Homo sapiens: one gene and its partners. The main gene of each other region encodes a partner of the protein of the gene in region 2 in a complex. Links are inferred from orthologs where the notes say so. Each region holds a gene or a part of one and is shown on either strand. Other genes may lie near its edges.

The links.
Region 1: the proteins of DLG4 (region 2) and CRIPT are in contact, whole or in part, in a crystal structure (PDB 5HED), measured with the Rattus norvegicus proteins. The link is inferred for Homo sapiens from one-to-one orthologs. Residues at the interface, in NP_062567.1 of Rattus norvegicus: Gly322, Leu323, Gly324, Phe325, Asn326, Ile327, Val328, Gly329, Gly330, Glu331, Asp332, Glu334, Ser339, His372, Glu373, Ala376, Leu379, Lys380, Arg399, Phe400; in NP_063972.1 of Rattus norvegicus: Lys94, Asn95, Tyr96, Lys97, Gln98, Ser100, Val101.
Region 3: DLG4 (region 2) and SHISA6 share a complex: the UniProt entries of both Homo sapiens proteins name them as parts of the postsynaptic hippocampal AMPA-type glutamate receptor (AMPAR) complex.

Annotation. Positions count from the first base shown.
Region 1 is NC_000002.12:46,627,145-46,630,722, forward strand, and holds the end of CRIPT (cysteine-rich PDZ-binding protein), read left to right. Parts: 3' UTR 1-3,032; downstream 3,033-3,578. UniProt on the Homo sapiens protein: As a component of the minor spliceosome, involved in the splicing of U12-type introns in pre-mRNAs. Involved in the cytoskeletal anchoring of DLG4 in excitatory synapses.
Region 2 is NC_000017.11:7,207,512-7,214,627, reverse strand, and holds part of DLG4 (disks large homolog 4), read left to right. Parts: intron 1-6,388; coding exon 6,389-6,454; intron 6,455-7,116. UniProt on the Homo sapiens protein: Postsynaptic scaffolding protein that plays a critical role in synaptogenesis and synaptic plasticity by providing a platform for the postsynaptic clustering of crucial synaptic proteins.
Region 3 is NC_000017.11:11,236,403-11,244,252, forward strand, and holds the start of SHISA6 (protein shisa-6 isoform 1 precursor), read left to right. Parts: upstream 1-4,810; 5' UTR 4,811-5,020; coding exon 5,021-5,658; intron 5,659-7,850. UniProt on the Homo sapiens protein: Involved in maintenance of high-frequency synaptic transmission at hippocampal CA3-CA1 synapses.

The DNA of each region.
Region 1 (3,578 bases), on a different chromosome or scaffold from region 2:
GTTTTCGTTTTCTGAATTGTTTTAGTTCCTTATAGATTTTGGACATTAGACCTTTTTCAGATGCACAGTTTGTGAATATTCTCTCCCATTCTGTAGGTTGTCTGTTTACTGTATTGATAGTTCCTTTTGCGGTGCAGAAGCTCTTTAGTTTGATTAGGTTCCACTTGTCAATTTTTGTTTTTGTTGCAATTGCTTTTGAGGACTTAGCCGTAAGTTCTTTCCCATAGCTGATGTCCAGATGTTATTTCGTAGGTTTTCTTCTAGGACTCTTATAGCTTGAAGTCTTACATTTAAATCTTTTTTTTTTTTTTTCCCCAAAGACAGAGTCTCCTTCTGTTGCCCAGGCTGGAGTACAGTGGTACAATCTTGGCTCACCACAACCTCCACCTCCCAGGCTCAAGCGATTCTCATGCCTCAGCCTCCCAACCTAACTGGGATTACAGGCACATGCCACCACGCCTGGCTAATTTTTCTATTTTTAGTAGGAATGGGGTTTTACCATGTTGGCCAGGCTGGTCTTGAATTCCGAGCCTCAAGTGATCCACCCACCTCAGTCTCCCAAAGTGCTGGGATTACAGGCATGAGCCACTGCACCCGGCCCCTTATATTTAAATCTTTAATCTATCTTGAGGTAATTTTATATATATGGTGAAAGGGGTCCAGTTTGAGTCTTCTGCATATGGCTAGACAGCTGTTCCAGCACCATTTATTGAATTAGGGAATCCTTTCTCTGTTGCTTATTTTTGTTAACTTTGTCAAAGGTCAGATGGCTGTAGGTGTGTAGCTTTATTTCTGTCTGTTCCATTCCATTGGTCTATGGGTCTGTTTTTATATCTGTACCATGCTGTTTTGGTTACTGTAGCTTCCTTATAGTATAGTTTAACTCAGGTAATGTGATACCTCAGCTTTGTTTTATTTGCTTAGGATTGATTTTTTGGTTCCATATGAATTTTAGAATGGATTTTTTCTTTTTTTTTTTTTTTGAGACGGAGTCTTGCTGTGTCTCCCAGGCTCTGAGTGCAGCTGTGCAATCTCAGCTCACTGCAACCTCTGCCTCCTGAGTTCAAGCAATTCTCCTGCCTCAGCCTCCCAAATAGCTGGGATTACAGGAGCCCGCCAACCATGCCCAGCTAATTTATGTAATTTTAGTAGAGATGGGGTTTCATCATCTTAGCCAGGCTGGTCTTGAACTCCTGACGTTGTGATCCACCCGCCTCAGCCTCCCAAAGTGCTGGGATTACAGGCGTGAGCCACTGGACCCGGCAGGATTTTTCTAATTCTGTGAAAAATGATGTTTGTAGTTTGATAGGAATAGCATTGAATCTGTGGATTGCTTTGGGCAGTATGGCCATTTTAATGATATTGATTCTTCTAGCTCATGAGCTTGGAATGTTTTTCCATTTGTTTGTGTCATCTCTGATTTCTTTCAGCGTGTTTTGTAGTTCTTGTCCAGCTCACATTTTATCTTCATACTTTGAGTAGCCTCCTTCCATGAATGGATCATCCAGTGGCCGCACTTAGGTTCTCCTATGAAGATTTTTGTTGTATTGTACCTCAGAACCATCTCCATATTCTCTAAATAATAATAATGATGGTCATAAATTGAATAGAAGTATTTACTAGATGAGGAGGAAAACCCTAAAACAAAACATGAACATAAAATATTTTTAAAAGGAAGACATACAAACAGACACTATAACCAAATAAGATGACAGAATTAAGGCCTTATGCCACAGCCAGAGTTGAAAAATGCAGAAAAAAAGTTTAAAAACAAGGAATTAAAGCCAAACCTAACTTTTATCAAAATAAATGTAAAAGTGATGAAAGAATCTGTTAAGATATCAGATTGTAATATAAAAGATACTAGAAACAAATGCCAATAGAACACTTAAGTACATTTTATATATTCATCCATTAGAATATATAGCTGTCAGAATGATAGAAGAATTACATATGTGTGCAAAAGTTTTTGTATCCATGTGGAAAACACAGGAAGCTAATAGTACTGTTTTTCTCTGGAGTGGGTGTAAGGGTAGAGACTTAACTCTTTACATCCTTATGGCAGCCTTCGAATACCTTTTAACTCCCAGTTCCCTTAACTGGGGGTGTGTATCCTAGAATCCTCGACCCATTAGAAAGTATATTGTAGACATCATACTCTTTACCCTTTAACACTACACATGCACTTCATAAGAACAAGCATGCTGTCTTACCCAAGTACAGCTATCAAGTTCAGAAATTTAACATTGCCATAATACTTTACAGTCCATATTTCAATTTCATTTGCTGTTTTATTGGTAATTTTTTTCAGCTCCACGATCCAGCCTAGGATCATATGTTGTATTGCCATAACCCTCTAATCTGGAGCAGTTCCTCAGCTTTTCTTTGTTTTTTATAATAGTAATATATTTGAAAAATACAGGACAGCTAAAGGATAGAGTATCCTTCTATTTGGGTTTTTCTGATGTTTCCTCATGGTTAGATTGGGGTAGTGCAGTGAGGGTTGAAATGCTGTAAGTGATATGTATTGCAGGTATACATCCAGATGCACAGAATGTCCATTTGTCCCTTATTGGTGATGCTAATTTTGATCACTTGGGTAAGATGTCCAGTTTCTCCAGTGTATCGTTATTGTTTTTCCTTTTGCAATTAGTGGGTAATTTGTGAGGAGAAACTTTGAGACCTTGTTGACAATTCTGTTCCTCATCAAATCTACCCCTCCTAGGTTTAGCATCCTTTGACGATTCTTGTCTGAATAAATTTTTACTAGGATGTTTCCAAAATTGTGATTGTTCTAACTCTATTATTATTTCTGTATTAATTAGTCATCATTCTACTGTAAGGAAGAGGTTTCCCTTTATCATCAACTTCGAGTAAGTACTTTTTTCTGAGCCATTTGAATATTCCTTACTAGATGTGGTGCCTCTTTACCCCAATTACTTAAGTTTGTATTTCCAAAGAACAAGGGTGTTTTCCTGCATAGCCATAGCACAATTACCAAAATCAGAAAATTAACATTAATACTTTACTATTATCAAATCTTTTTCATATTTTGCTAATTGTTTCAGTAATATGCAAAAAAAAAAAAAAGTCTGATCTGGATCCACTCTGGAGTAACATTACATTTAGTTGTCATGTCTGTAGTCTCATTTATTCTGGAGCAGTTCTTCAGCCAGTCTTTCAAAATGCCAAGGTTATGGGCCAGTTGTATTTTTTTTTTTAATTTCAACTTTTATTTTAGACTCAGGGAGTATATGTGCAAGTTTGTTACATGGGTATATTGCGTGATGCTGAGGTTTGGGGCACCATTGATCCCGACACCCAGGTAGTGAGCATAGTACCCAATAGGTAGTTTTCCAACCCTTGCACCTTCCCTCCCTCCCTCCTCTAGTAGTCCTCAGTGTCTATTGTTCCCAACCCGTAGACTTTTTATAGAGTAACTCTTAATCTGGGTTTTTCTGGTATTTCTTGATGATTAGACTGAGCTTATACATTTTTGGCGGGGATACCACAGAAATGGCATTGTTCTTTTCAGTGCACCGTATCATGGTGTCAGTTGTCCCATTACAAGGATGTTA
Region 2 (7,116 bases):
GTGGGGGAAAGACTGAGGCTATTTGCCAGAGCCCCAGGAGCGAAGCGGTTAAACCCTCCGGGTGGTCCTTATTGGGCAAAGCCGAGATGCCGGGGGCGGGGCAGTGTGGCCGACGGCCTCATTCATTGGCCGTCAGGGGCGTGGCGGAGGGACAGTGTGGGCGAGGCAGGGGGAGCGAACGGGCGGGAAGTGGACGGAGGCGTGGCCTCCCGGGCAGGTGGGTGGGGTCTGGCTTACTCTATCGAGGGAGGCAGCAACCTTCGGAAAGGGGAGGAACCTTGGGGCTGGGTTACCTGACCGAAATGAGGGCGGGGCTGACCTGGGATGGGCGTGGCGTGGCCCCCCGTGCGTAAAGGAGACAGGGTTTGAGGAGCTATTGTCCAAGTAACTTCAGGGCGCGGGGGTCTTTGGAAAGGAGAATCCGGGGGTTGGGAAGTCTGACGTCTCAATTTTCCTAAGATGGAGGTCTGTTCAGATTTCATCAGAGCACCCCTCCTACCTCAGCTCTGTGTTCCCAGGAGACGGTTGCTAGGCGACGGCAAAGTCCTTGATTGCTGCGTTGCCAGGCAACAGAGAAACGGAAAATGGAGGGAAAAGGGAAATGGGGGATGGGGAAGGGTCTTTATGGGCCATGGCGCCCACTGGTGGATAAGCAGGGCCTGCAGGTTTTCTATTCTAGAAGGAAATTTGAGTCCAGCCCCTTCCGCACTGACTCCTTGGATCCTCTGGTGATCCAAGCCTTCCTACCAGATATGAAACTAGGACATTGGGGGTCATCTTGGGGGCGCATGTAACAGATGCCGATCAACGGGGTCAATCTCGCTTGGGTGAGATTCTAGGGAAGTCGTCATTTCTACCATGTATGGGCATTTTATAGAAGTCAGCCGATTTGAGGAGACCCCTCACTGGGTTTTAAGAGCTGGAAGGGTGGGCGTTCAATGGGAGAATATTTGGAAGAGAGGCTTTCAGGTTAAGTTGTTTGGGAGAAAATGGAAATCTCTGAAGAGACCTGAAGGAGGCGGTTGGGAGTGTTCTGGACGATTTGTGGGTCATTGCAGATTGCCGGCCGTATCTTTGGTGTGTATTTTTTGAGGCCTGAGTGTGGAGAAGATATATTTGGGAGCAATCTTCCGACAAAGTTGGAATTCAGAATCGTGGAGGGGATGTTCTGGGCAGACAGAAAAGGGTGTAATCTATGAACCTCAGGGGTAAAGAAAAGGAGAGGAGGTGCCGGGTGCGGTGGCTCACACCTGTAATCCCAGCACTTTGGGAGCCCGAGGCGCGCGGATCATGTGAGGTCACGAGTTCGAGACCAGCCTGGCCAACATGGCGATACCCCGTCTCTACTAAAAATACAAAAAAATTAGCCGGGCGTAGTGGCGGGCGCCTGTAATGCCAGATATCCGGGAGGTTGAGGTAGGAGAATCACTCGAACCCGGGAGCCGGATGTTGCAGTAAGCCGAGATCGCGCCATTGCACTCCAGCATGAGCAACAGAGCGAGAATCTGTCTCAAAAAAAAAAAAAAAAAAAAGAAAGAAAGAAAGAAAAGAAAAGGAAAAGGAAAATACTTTTAATTAATTAATTATTAATTTTTGAGACCGAGTCTCACTCTGTCGCCTAGGCTAGAGTGCAGTGGCACGATCTCGGCTCACTGCAATCTCTGCTGCCCAGATTCAAGCCATCCTCCTGCCTCAGCCTCCCTAGTAGCTAGGATTACAGGCGCCTGCCACCGCGCCCGGCTAATTTTTGTAGTTTTAGTAGAGATGGGGTTTCACCATCTTGGCCAGGCTGGTCTGGAACGCCTGACCTCATGATCCAACCGCCTCGGCCTCCCAAAGTGCTGGGATTACAGGTGTGAGCCACCGTGCCAGGCCAAAATTTTTTTTTTTAGAGATGGGATCTCACTATGTTGCCCAAGCTGGTGTTGGGCACCTGGCCTCCAGCGATCTTCCCGTCTACATTTCTTTTTATAAGAGTTTTGGAAAAAATTGACGAGATTGCTATTTAATTTGGAGGGTCTGCTTTAAAGTAGATTAAATATTTCCTGAAATTGGGTTCTGGTGTGGATTTGGAGACTGGCATATTAGGAAGTCATGAGTATCTTATTAGATTCGGGGGTTTGGACAGGGGATCCCCAACAAATTAGAGGACTTGTTATTTGGATGTTTATATTAGAGCAAGAGTAATATTTGCACTAATTGCAACATCCCTGTTAGTGGATTGGGAGATAGATGTGATATAGAAAGGGATGATTTAGCATATATTAATTTGGGGGGCCAACAAGGCTCTGTGGTTCCTTAAACTCTTGAAGAAACATGGGCTGCCTATCAGGTGGGGCTGGACTGCAGGGGAGAACTATGCTGGTTAGAGTAGGAGATGCCTTGGAATCTGAGGAGATGCTATCCACAGCACCAATCTTGCGGGGGTTTGGTGGGAGAGGCAGTGTAGATCCCTTGGGGGTTCTTGTGAGAGAAGTGCTGTTTGTTTCCCTGGACTCTGGGAGGCCAGTAGTGACGAGATGTCCAGTGAGGTTTTGGAATGGTTTGGGGTCTCGCGATGTTGGGGTTGGGGGATTAGATGGGATGGAATAAGGGGTCCCTGAGAACTAGAGAGATAAACTGGTAAATTTAAGTCTGTCTTTAATTGTAGAGGGGTCGGAATAGAAGTATACTGTGGAAAGTGAAGTTCACAGAGAAACAGCGTGAACCAGGGAAGTTGGTGGCTAAGAGGGTCTCCCCTCACCCCTCTCTCCCAACGTGACGCTCTTCCTTACTGCGCAGGCGCCGTCACCCCCCCCCCCCCCCCGCCGCAGCCTCCAGTTGCCGCGGCCGCCGCAGCCCCCGCCCCTCTGCCCCTCCCCCTCCCCCAACCCCCGGGACCCTTGATATCCCACCTACCCCCTTCCCTCAGTCCCCCTCCCCTTCTCCATGTCGGCTCGGAACAGATTCGCCTCCATGTGTCTCTGCGTGGTACGTGCCGCGGTATGGGCTCCGGCCCGCTCCCCCTTCCCGGACCCCCGCAAATATCAGGGTGCAAGCTTCAAGCGCTGTCGCTCTTCCTTCTGCTTGGTGCGGGGTCTCTGGGTTGCAACTTCTCGTGGACAGGCGCCGTGGGTCGCCCCTCTTATCATTCACTTTGACTCACACCCCTATGTTTTGGGGGTGCAAGCCTCAGTTCCAGGTCATTCTGTGCAACTGGGGCTCTGGTGAGGAGGGGGCCAAAGGGGAAGGAACAACAGCGACTCCGTCCGTGTCCCCCATTCCCCAGGCCTTTTACTTGTTTTAAGCCCTAATATATTGGGGGTGCAGATATGTCCCAGTAGCATCTGAGTTGTCTGGGTTAGGGCCCTGAGTCCCAGTAGGATAAAGGATGGGGGGGGTCCTCCTTTCCCGTCCTGCTTTAGTTGCCCTGTAATCCAAGACTGAGAGGTGCTGATCCCCCACCGCCCCAGCCCCCCAGTCTGCAGTTTCAGAATTACTCTCCCCCGCCCCCACCCCCACCCCTCCCGACGTTTCTCCCCGCCCCCCTACATGTACGTCGAAAATTTCCAGAGACTGAACCTAGTCCCTAACCTCTTCCAGCCACATTCTGGAAACCCTGGCACCCATTTCTTGTTCCCCATTTTCTCCATGTTGCCTCCCAATCCTGAGGAGCCTTTTCTTCAGTGCCAGACACCACCCTCCCTCCATGGGGGTGGGGCAGGGAGAGGTATTGGGGGCTCGCTGAGATAAAAGTTTACCTTCATTTCCTCCCTAGAATAAATGATGAAATGGCCCTCCTCATGTTTCCATTTTCTTTGGGTGCACGCTGACATTTCCTCCTCAGATTCAGGAATTTTCTCTCTGAGGTGGAGTGAAGATGGAGAGGCACTGGACTCAAACCCTCCCCCAGACTCCAAAACTTGGAGCTTTGGTCCTAATTTACCTTGCAGGGAATTGGAGGCCTTGTGAAGGAAGAGTGGATAGCGGAGAGCGGCTTCCACCCCTTCCCCCAGGTCTCAATTCTGGGGCTTGCCCCTCAGCTTGTGCACTGCCCAGGTAGAAGACCACCTTCTCAGGATGTGGAATGAACAGTCTCTGTTGGTTCATAGAACTCCTTTATTCAAGACAGCTCAGCCTTGGAGGAGGGCTATTTTGTGTGTTCTCCTATTTTCCTTCTCTACTTTTTGTGCCCATCGGATTGAAATCTGGAGTTCAGGATTCTCTCCAAGTCTGTGGCCCAGAGAATAGACTCAATCTTGCTGAGCCCGTTTTCCTTCTTTAAGACTCTTTAAATGTATCAGGGTGCTTCTTGATTTGAGTTGTCTCTGTGTTCTGGGTTTGAGAGTTTTCGTGCTGACAGGACCACTTCCCTTCTCCCATTCTCTTACTGTACCCTTACTCTACAGCCAAAGTTGTGTTATATTCTCAGCCTTGATTCATCATCTTTAACATTTTCAGAATCCTACTCAAGGATTGGCCATTGACCTTGATAAGCTTCCTCCCATTTGATCTCGCAGCTGCTGCCCTCTAAGTATTAGGGCACTCTCAGCCTCTCAGAAACTTTTGGGAGGGAAATTCTGCTCGCCCTCTCTCTTTTTTGTTTTGGAGATGGAGTCTCACTCTGTCGCCAGGCTAGAGTGCAGTGGCATGATCTCGGCTCACTGCAACCTCCGCTTCCCAGGTTCAAGCAATTCTCCTGCCTCAGCCTCCCATGTAGCTAGGATTACAGCCATGTGCCACCACGCCCAGCTAATTTTTGTATTTTTAGTAGAGATGGGATTTCACCATGTTGGCCAGGCTGGTCTCTGACCTCAGGTGATGTACCCACCTCGGCATTATAAGCATCAGCCACTGCTCCTGGCCTCTCTCTCTTTTTGAGACAGGGTCTTACTCTGTTGCCCAGGCTGGAGTGCGGTGGCGTGATCATGGCTCACTGCAGCCTCCACCTCTTGGGCTCAAGCAATCCTCCCACCTCAGCCTCCTTAGCAGTTGGGACTACAGGTGTGCACCACCATGCCTGGCTAATTTTTGTATTTTTTGTAGACAGGGTTTCACTGTGTTGCCCAGGCTGGTCTCCAACTCCAGCTCCTGGGCTCAAGCTGTCTGCCTGCCTCAGCCTCCCAAAGTGCTGGGATTGCCGTGCCTTCTCTTTTTACCCATGTGTACTGGGCGGTGCATTCTGTCTTCTTCAGTTCCTGAGGGATCCCTGCGTATGATACCTTCCCCTTCCTGAACCTGGAGCTTGGAGGGTCAGTCTCTGTGGAGGCCCGTTCCAGAGGAGAGGAGCAGGCGAGGGCAGAGGCGGACACGGAAGGACCCAGGCAGAAACGCTGTCTTCTTCTGCTGTCTCCATCTGCCCTTTTCCTCCTTCTCTGGCCCCCAGTTAATCTCATTTTACTGTTGTCCCTATTAAGCTAGCACAGGAGGCCCTTGGGATGGCAGCTGATTAACTGGGCAGGGAGTCAGGGGTCATGTTGGGCCTTTCACCCCAAAAGAGCAGAGGGAGACCAGAAATTCACTCTGAGGCTCAGCATGCTACCCTCCTCCCCAACCAGGGAGGCTGGCACCCATTCTTGCCCCTGTCCTGAGCCCTGCTGTCTCTGTTCTTCCCCTTCCTCCCCCAGCCCATGCCCTTATAGCATAACCGGATTAGCTGGCTGGGCTGTGGGCTGTTGCAGGGGTAGGGCCAGACTCCCGGGGCCCCTCTGTTGACTGCTTGGAAACCAGCAAGGGCAGTGAACTGGACAGGCTTAGCCTTGTCCTGTCTCGGGGGCTGATACCAAGTACCTTCTGGTGGAAGGGGTGACTTCAGTCCTTGCCTAAGGAGTGCAAGGTAAAGGAGAGCCAATCACCTGTGGGGTAGAGGCTGCAATGGGGAGACTGAGGCCATGGAGGTGGGGCGCGGGGAGGATGCCATGCAGAGTAGGAGCAGCCAGAGGGGTAGGGGAGGGGAGGCTAGAACAAGAGTGAGTCTGAGATGGTGAGAGAAGCAAGGAAGTTGGGGACTGGAGGCAGAGAATGGAGATGTGAGTGTCGGGGCTAGAGCTCTGAGAAGCTGGAGGGACTCGAAGATGAAGGTGGTGGGGAAAGGGGTGAAGACACAGATGCCAGAGGGGCTATGCCCACCAGAAGGCCAGTGTCCCAGGATGTGAGGAGTAGGAGTTGGGGGATGGGATTGGGACCTGGGGATTGATGAGAGGTGCTGAGGCCCTGGCGGGAGAGGGGGCTGTTGGGAGAGTGGAGAGAGGGGAGCCAATGGGCTAGAGGAGAGGGAGGGGGAGGAGCTGGTCAGGCCCCAGGGCCTTCCGCACTGCACTGGCTGGGGGAAGAGGCGGCGGCCAGGGCGGCCAGCCTGGAGCCTGAGGCACCGGGCTGGCCCCAGTGACACCTCCGTCCCCATCCCCAGAAATACCGCTACCAAGATGAAGACACGCCCCCTCTGGAGCACAGCCCGGCCCACCTCCCCAACCAGGTAAACGCCCCCGAGCTGGTGCACGTGGCGGAGAGGAACTTGTCCCACCTCGAGGCTGGCCACGGGGTCGTGGGCCACGCCCACCTCTCCCCCTTCAAGGTAGGAGACCCTGGTGGCCCCCTCCCCAGTGCGGCCCTCGGAGCCTCGGAGCTGCAGCAATCCCTAAGGGCCGGTAGGGTGAGAGAGAGCCGTGGGGAGGGGGATGCTGGGACTGGGGGCGGGGGTTTGGGGCTTGGGCTCCTGGGGTCTGGGGGAGGGGGCGTTTGTGGGGCTGGAAACACCTTGGTCCCACAGAGGAGAAACAGGCCAGGCCAATGGGAGTGGATGTAAAGCCTAAAGCAAGAATGTGTGTGTGCGCGCGTGCCTGTGCGCGTGTGCTGTGTGTGTGCCTGTGCGTGTGTGCATGCATGCGTGCCTGTGTGTGTGCTGTGTGTGTGTGTGCGTGCGTGCGCCGTTTGTGTGCCTGTGCGTGTGCTGTATGCGTGTGTGTTGAGGTGTGTGCATCCCCCAAGAGGCCCCCACGCCTGGGACCTCTTCATTCCTTCACACCCCCAACCTCCATTTCCATTTTCTGTGTCCAGAGCTCTGTTCCAAGCGCCTGCTGCCCTCATTTGCTCTTGTCCCTTCCCCGCCTCCTCCCCCTACCTCCGCCTCTGGGCCTG
Region 3 (7,850 bases), 4.0 Mb from region 2:
ACAGGCTTCAATAAAAGGAAACTTAATTATCTCACGTTACTGGAAGACCAGAGATGGGAAGGCCCTGAGCATACCTCTTTGAGTGGCCCAATGATGTTCTGTCCATCTTTTCAGCTGGCACCCTCAGTGTATCAGTCAGGGTGGGCTAGGATACGCTGCAATAATAGGCCTCAATTCCAGTGGCTTTAAAAAGCAGATACATAGAGAGATGGATAGATATTAATAGATAGAGATATAGATAGATATTTATAGATAGAAATATTTATTTTTTTTATATTTATATCTCTATGTACTATCTATCTATCTATTGATCTATATTTACTCATGCTACATGCCCATCGTGGGACACTATTTTTATTAGCTATCAGGCATTCCTCACTATAGTCACCTAAGTACTCACACTGACAAAAACCACTCCCATATAGAACATCGCTGATCACCATGCCAGAAGAAAATGAAAATTCTAGAGTGTCTTGCAGCAGCAATTAGATGCTCTGTTTCAAAAATAACACACATCATTTCTGCTCACAACTCATTGACTGATACTAGTCACTTTCCCCTCCTACTCACAAGTGGGCTAGGAATTGCAATTCTACTACATGCCTGGGAGGCAGAGATATTTGGTAAGCAGTGCTAACAACTATAAAATTGAGGCCGGATGCGGTGGCTCAAGCCTGTAATCCCAACACTTTGGGAGGCCAAGGCGGGTGGATCACCTGAGATCAGGAGTTCAAGACCAGCCTAGCCAATATGGTGAAACCCAGTCTCTACTAAAAATGCAAAACTTAGCCAGGCTCGGTGGCTGGTGTCTGTAATCCCAGCTACTAGGGAGGCTGAGGCAAGAGAATCGCCTGAACCTGGGAGACGGAGGTTGCAGTGAGCTGAGATCACGCCACTGCATTCCAGCCTGAGCAACAGAGTAAGACCTTGTCTCAAGAAAAAAAAGAAAAGAAGATCAACTTCAACTCTTAGCTGGTGCCCCAACCCCAAGGTAACAACATCCAGAGAAATAACACCAAAAAAAGAAGAAGAAAGAAGAAAGAAGGAAGGAGAAGGAGAAGGAGAAGAAGGAGAAGAAGAGAAGGAGAAGGAGGAGAAGGAGAAGGAGGAGAAGAAAGAAGAAGAAAGAAGAAGAAAGAAGAAGAAAAGAAGAAGAGAAAAGAAGAAGAAGAGGAAGAAGAAGAAGAAGAAGAAGAAGAAGAAGAAGAAGAAGAAGAAGAAGAAGAAGGAATTATCACTATTTTTAAGAGCAAGAAAATTTCCCCAGAAACCCCCTGCAAACTTCTCTCACTTAGTATTGGCTAGAACTGGATCATATGTCCCTTCTTAATCCCTGTGAAGGGGAAAAAGATTTATTATGTCTAGCTCAACCCAATCAGCATTTGCCTTCATTTGCCTTCTACAACCAGGGACTGGGTCACTCTCCCCTGAACCTCAGGACTGTCTGAAGTTGGTGGAGGTGTTGGAAGAGATGATTCTTCTCTGGTACTTTTTATTGAGTCAAATCCACAAAGAAAGAGCACTTTAATACTGTCAACAATTCAGGCGCTCAAACTAGAAGGAGAAAAGAGAAATGTATGGTGGTAACCAAGCAACCTTTTCTACTACAAAGGGCAAACCAGGAGGGCTGGAAATGTCAATAAGAAATACAGTGTACTGCAGCAAGAGTTGGGATATATAACCCCTAAGATCTTACACAACCCTGAGATGCTATTATTTCCATGAGTGTTGATGCCACCACTTATGAGCACAGGGGTTCAGGATACATTTATAGGTGGTGGTGGTCTGAGAAACCAAATCAGTTTCCCCTACTTAATGCCGCTGAACAAATCATTAGAGTCTGATGTGAGGAGGACACATTTCTCCTATCCATCATTAAGGGGCTCTCAGACATGGAAAAGCAAATTCTGGAATAATGAAGGGATGGTGAAGGCTCATGGAAGAGACAAAGAAGGGAATAGCTTAGAAATTGCACAGAGTGTAAAGGTAAATATATAAGGCTGTTGTCTTCAAATATGTTCTTATGATTCCCAAATGTATATGCCTGTCTTATCTTCTCTTCTGAGCTTGCAATTCTTGTGCAGGACAGCTCCACTTAGTTCTCTCAAAGGAACCACAACACGACTATTGCTAACTCTGTCCTGAACCTGCTTTTTCAGCCATGCTTATTTCCACTGTGGGCATCAACTCCCAGTAATCTACTGCATCCCTTCATCATTTTTTACCTGTATTATCAGGACAGCTTCCAAATTGCTTTTCCTGCGTCCAGTCCAGTGTTCCCTACTCCATTTGACTCAGAGATCCAGCAAACATGTAAAACTGACAGTGTCTTCTCCTGATTAAAACCCACCAACAGTTCCCCAGCAATTGTAGAATAAATTCAAGTTCTTTGCAAGGGAGGATTCAATACCCTCCTGCTAGCCTTATTTGGAAGACTCCCTCAGGGTTCACGCTAAACTGCTTGCATCCCTGCTCACACACCTTAACCACTTCCTGTCTTTCTGGTTCTGCTAAGGATGTTCCCTCTGCTGGGAGCCTCCTTCCCCTCTTGCTTGCTGTATTAACTCGTAATCCATTCTTCAAGATTCTGCTCTACCTCATTGAGAAAGCTACATTTGACCCCCATCTGTCCCCTTGCAGGCCTAGGCTGGGTGCCTGTCTTCTGCTCTCAGAGCACCCTGCCCGCCTTTATCATGAGACGTAACCTTGCCATGTGGAAATCATTTGTTTATCTGTCTCCCTAATGGTCTACAAGGTCCCCCTCCTTGAGGAAAGGGACTCTCTTATTCATTCTGCTGGCAGGGAGTAGGCACTAAACAAATGTTTGTTGGACAGAATCTTTAAGAAGAAGGTGGCAACTGAGAAGTTAAGGGAACGGGAGGAAGTGCAGAGGAAGAGGGAGGGAATGGAGACAGTAGCAAGTGGGGAGCTGCGGGGATAGTCTGTGCACCGCCCCCCACCCCACCCCCTAGTCAATATCAGGATCTCCCTCTTGTGTCTTGGAGTCTGAGTTCGAGCTCTAATATATCCATTCCACGGTTCCCAAAAGAGGAACTCTTCTGTTCCTGGATAGGGATCCCTTGTTTAGGTCACACATGAGTGGGACTGAACAGAAAGTCTCAGGGAAAATTCTCTACCGCCCTCGCTCTGACAGCCTGTTCCCTGCCTTCAGTTCCCTGCCTTCAACCAAAGCACGCTGGTCACGCAGGCAGAATCTTGGCCTTGGCCATCGCTTTTTGTTCTCAGTTCCCCCTACCTCCTCCAAGGACACACGCCAAGGATGGTACTATGATTCTCTTTTGGGATGGCCTCGTAGCTGTGAAAGTTAGACTCAGGCCTCCTTTCCACAGACCCAGACACGCAACTACCCCGGAAAGCACCCCCGCCCTGCACCCCCATCCTCCTCACCTCCCATAGGAGCTGCAGCACAGAGATTTCAACACAGGGGTTACAAAGCTGAGTCTCAGAGGTTCAGATAGCTTTCTAATGGCCTCGAGGCTCCGCGGGGAAAAAAAAAAGTATAGCAAAGAGTTGCCATCCAGTCCTGGGGCTGTCTAGCGCCTTTATGCGTAGTGGGTACGGGGTTGGGGAAAGAGTGACCAAGGGGAAGAGAGTGTAGGCTCAGCTCACGGGTCGCCCAACAGCCTCAGACAAGCCACTTGACCCCTGGACTCAGTTTGGGAACCTGTAGCAATGGGTTTGACCTCTTCTCCTGGCTGCGAGTATCACCACTAGGGAGAGGCAAAGGCTTGCAGAAACCCCAACTCCCGCTCAGGCAGCGCGCTGCCCCGGGCTCCGGTAGGGTGGGGACTGGTCGCGAAGGCTAGAGAAGGCAATGGCAGGGGAGGTCAGTCCCTGCCGCGGGCCGGCTGCAGAGCGGACGTTCCGCCCTGCTCCCGGCCCCCTCTTCGCCCGCCGGGTTCGCCGTGTCGAATAACTGCTGTCCGGAGCTTTCGTGACGCGGAGCTTCAACTGCTGCGATCCGGAAGAAGCGAAAAGGAGTCCCCCCCGCCCCGCACCCTGAGCGCCCGGGCGTGCAAACGTGGGTGGCGGAGAGCGGCTGCCCTCCCCTCCCCTGTCCCCCCTCCCCTCGCGGCGCTCCCGTGTGTGCGGGTGTGTGAGTGCGTGTGTCTCCCTCGCTCACTCTCGCACACGTTCCGGCACTAGTGCAGGCGGCGAGCCGGCGGCTCTCCGCTCGCTCGCTCCGGCAGCTGCGTTCCCGCCTCGCCCCGCCGCCGCCGCCGCCGCCGCCGCCGCCGCCTCTGCAGTCGCAGCCGGGCATGGTGAGTGAGTGAGGTCCAGCCGCCGCGCGCTCTCCCGGCTCGCCGCCGGACCCCAGCCTCAACCGGCTCCGTCCCAGGGAGCCAGCCTGCGGCGGGAGCGCGCTGCGGGGCCGGGCGGCTGGGGGACCCGGGCGGCCGAGCTGCGCCTGGAGGGGCGGCCCGTGCGCTCTCGGTTCCAGGCGCGCAGGGCCGCGGGACCCCGTCTTGGGAGCGGGCTCTACGCCCCTCCCGGCTCCGAGTCTCTCTCCTCGAGGGCTGCGCGCACCCTCCCCGCCCGCCTGCCCGCGGTTCTCCTCCTGCTCCCGGAGCGCCAGTCGCCCCACCCCGTGACCGGCTCCCCGTCTTGTCCCGCAGGACCCGCCCGGACGGGACCACGCCGCCGCCGCCGCCGCCGCCGCCCGGAGCCGCGCTTCGGGTCCTGCCTGAGCCGAGCCGCGCGCGGGGCCGCAGTCACCGCCGGCGGGGGATGGGGCTGCCCAGGAGGCGCGCCGAGCCCGCAGGGGGAGCGCGGAGCCGGCGCGCAGCCTGAGAGCCCGAGCAGCCCGCGCCGGGCCGGTCCGTGCGCACCGCGCGCCGCCGCCGCCACTGCCGCCCGCGCCTCGATGGCGCCATCGCCCCGGAGCCGCTGACCGCTCAGCGCCTCCAGCCCGGCCCGCGCGGCGGGTCCTCCGAGCCCGGCCCGCCGGGGGAGCGGCCTGCCGCGGAAGCCTCCCCGCGCCCTCCCGCCCGGCCCCGCCATGGCGCTGCGGCGCCTCCTGCTGCTGCTGCTGCTCTCGCTGGAGTCCCTGGACCTGCTGCCCAGCGTCCACGGAGCCCGCGGCCGCGCCGCCAACCGGACCCTGAGTGCAGGCGGCGCTGCCGTCGGGGGCCGGAGGGCCGGGGGCGCCCTGGCACGGGGCGGCCGCGAGCTGAACGGCACCGCCCGGGCGCCCGGAATCCCGGAGGCGGGAAGCCGGCGGGGGCAGCCCGCGGCGGCTGTGGCGGCGGCGGCCAGCGCGGCCGTCACCTACGAGACGTGCTGGGGCTACTACGACGTGAGCGGCCAGTACGACAAGGAGTTCGAGTGTAACAACAGCGAGAGCGGCTACCTGTACTGCTGCGGTACCTGCTACTACCGCTTCTGCTGCAAGAAGCGCCACGAGAAGCTGGACCAGCGCCAGTGCACCAACTACCAGAGCCCGGTGTGGGTACAGACGCCCAGCACCAAGGTGGTGTCGCCGGGGCCCGAGAACAAGTACGACCCGGAGAAGGACAAGACCAACTTCACCGTCTACATCACCTGCGGGGTGATCGCCTTCGTCATCGTGGCCGGCGTCTTCGCCAAGGTCTCCTACGACAAGGCCCACCGCCCTCCACGGGAGATGAACATCCACAGGTGAGAGCGCCGCGTGCCGCGCGCCCCGGTCTCCCCGCGGCCTCACCCTCTCAGCTTGCTTCCCCTGTCCTCTTCACTCTCGGCATCATCACACCTCCCCAGGCCCTCTAGTCATTTCCACCATCGCTCCTTTTGCATGCAATAAATCAGGGTCTTCTTGTGCCCCCTCCTCCATTTCTTCAGAACCGGGAATGCATGCTTTGGTGGTAGGGGGATTTACAAGGCAGAGTAAGAATTGGTTGAGTGCATGAAGTTCCAAGTGTAAGAATGTTACAAATTCTGTAATCGTGGATGAGGATCCAGGGTTCTGCTTTCCTGGCATGAGGGCACTTTGGTGTAGGTTCTTAATGGCATTTAGTTTTTTGAGTCAAATCAGAGTGTCATCTTCAATATAGGAAACTGACCAATGTTGGAACCTTACTGAAAGCGGTACCAAGTGGCTTAGGGTCAACTGAGATGTTCTCGTACATTAGGAATTGGGGTTTTATAGAAAGGATGCCTCCTGCCGGAAGTAGGGATAAAGATTTCTCCATTCCATGTTGACCAAGCACAGATGGTGTCTCCTCATTGCATCCTGCGGAGTGGGATGTTTATCTTTCCTGCTGAGACTAGAGGACTCGTTCTTTGAAACCCTGTAGGCAGAACTCTGAGTTAACAGTACTCGCCTGTGTTAAACCTGGTGGGGCATCTTTCACTGCTTACGTTCGAAAGACAGTGGGAGCTGCCTCCTACCAAAACTTACGCCAAGAGCTCAAACTATGGCAGTCCCTGGTTGCACGCTGAATGCTGCCCCGACGCACCATCTTGCCCCCCAGTGAGCCCTTGGGGAAGTCAAAGCCAAGGGGATGACAGAAACCCAGCCTCCCCTTAGAACTCTAGGAATGACACACCCAGAGGATGCAGAGTTAGCTCGGCTTCCTGTCCCCTCATGTTGATGGATGGCTGGACATGGTGCAAGAGTCCTCTCAGGGAACAAACCCTGCCCCGGGAGATGCCTCCATTTCTGTTGCATGGTGTGGGCACTGCCCTAGTCACCATGAGCACCCCCCAGACCACTGCTTGTCAGTCAGTCCTGCAGGCCCCCACACTGACCCATTCACCTTGAGCTCTTCTCTGCGTCCTGCTTGTTATTCTTACCACCTGAAAACCGCCTTCCTCGCTGCTGTGCACATTAATCACCCCTGCCTTGCTGAAGAGAGAGAAAGGCAGATAGAAATTTCTAGGCATGTTAAAAGAGCTGATTTTTTTTTTCTGCTTGATACTGTGGGTGTTGAGAGAAATGATACTCCCTGGAAGGTTTTATTGAGTCAAATCCACAAAGGGTGGGTACCTCAAACTCGCGTGCTGGAATTGGAGTGATTCCAAAAGGAGACCCTTTTATAAGGCTCTGTCACCCTGAGGTGCCTCCACCCTGTCTTCCACTTGCACCTCATGTCTCAGATAGTGCAGTAAGTATCCTCTTGTGTGAGAAACAGCCTGTGGTCAGTCTTGGCTCTCAAATGCAGAAGACAAGTGGGACGGTGAGCAAAATAAAGGCAAGAGACAGTTTCTTTTGCATCTTGTCTGGCAAAGAATTTTCTGTCTCGGCTCAGTGTGGAAAGAAAAGAAGGAATTGCCCGTGGGCAGGTGCTGTCCTGAAGCAGATGTGCTGGTCCTTATCATCCTTACACCTCTGCCTCAAGACTTGGAGGCTTGTCTCCTCTTCCCCTTCCCCTGTGGCCTTGGCCTCTCATTAAACCTTCTGCTCTGACCACAGCCGCTTGCTCGTTGATTCCTACACATCTTTCTTTAAGTTACTTTCTTTCTGAGCCATTGTTCTCTGTACTCAGGGAAAACTGCCTGCTGCCCTGACCCTTCCACCTCACACAGTTTATTCGTCATCGCCTGGGATGATACAGAGGGCGGTGTCCTCAAATGCTGGCAGCAGGCATCTTTGGATGCTGGCATTGGCACGTGACCCTGGAGAGGTCACTGTCCCTCTTGGTGTTTTCTCCCCTTCCCACCACCCTGATGCCCCTTACGCCAAACTAGGGTGAAGGTGATTACGGCATTGGGGCAGCTTCTCTCTGGGGTTGGGGAAGCAGAGTAACCACGGGAAGGGAGATGAATTTCAGGCCTCAGAGCTTTATGCAAATATGGGATGTTTCCCCCTCAAGTTCACCACCTGATTTTATTCAGTTCACAGCCTCTCT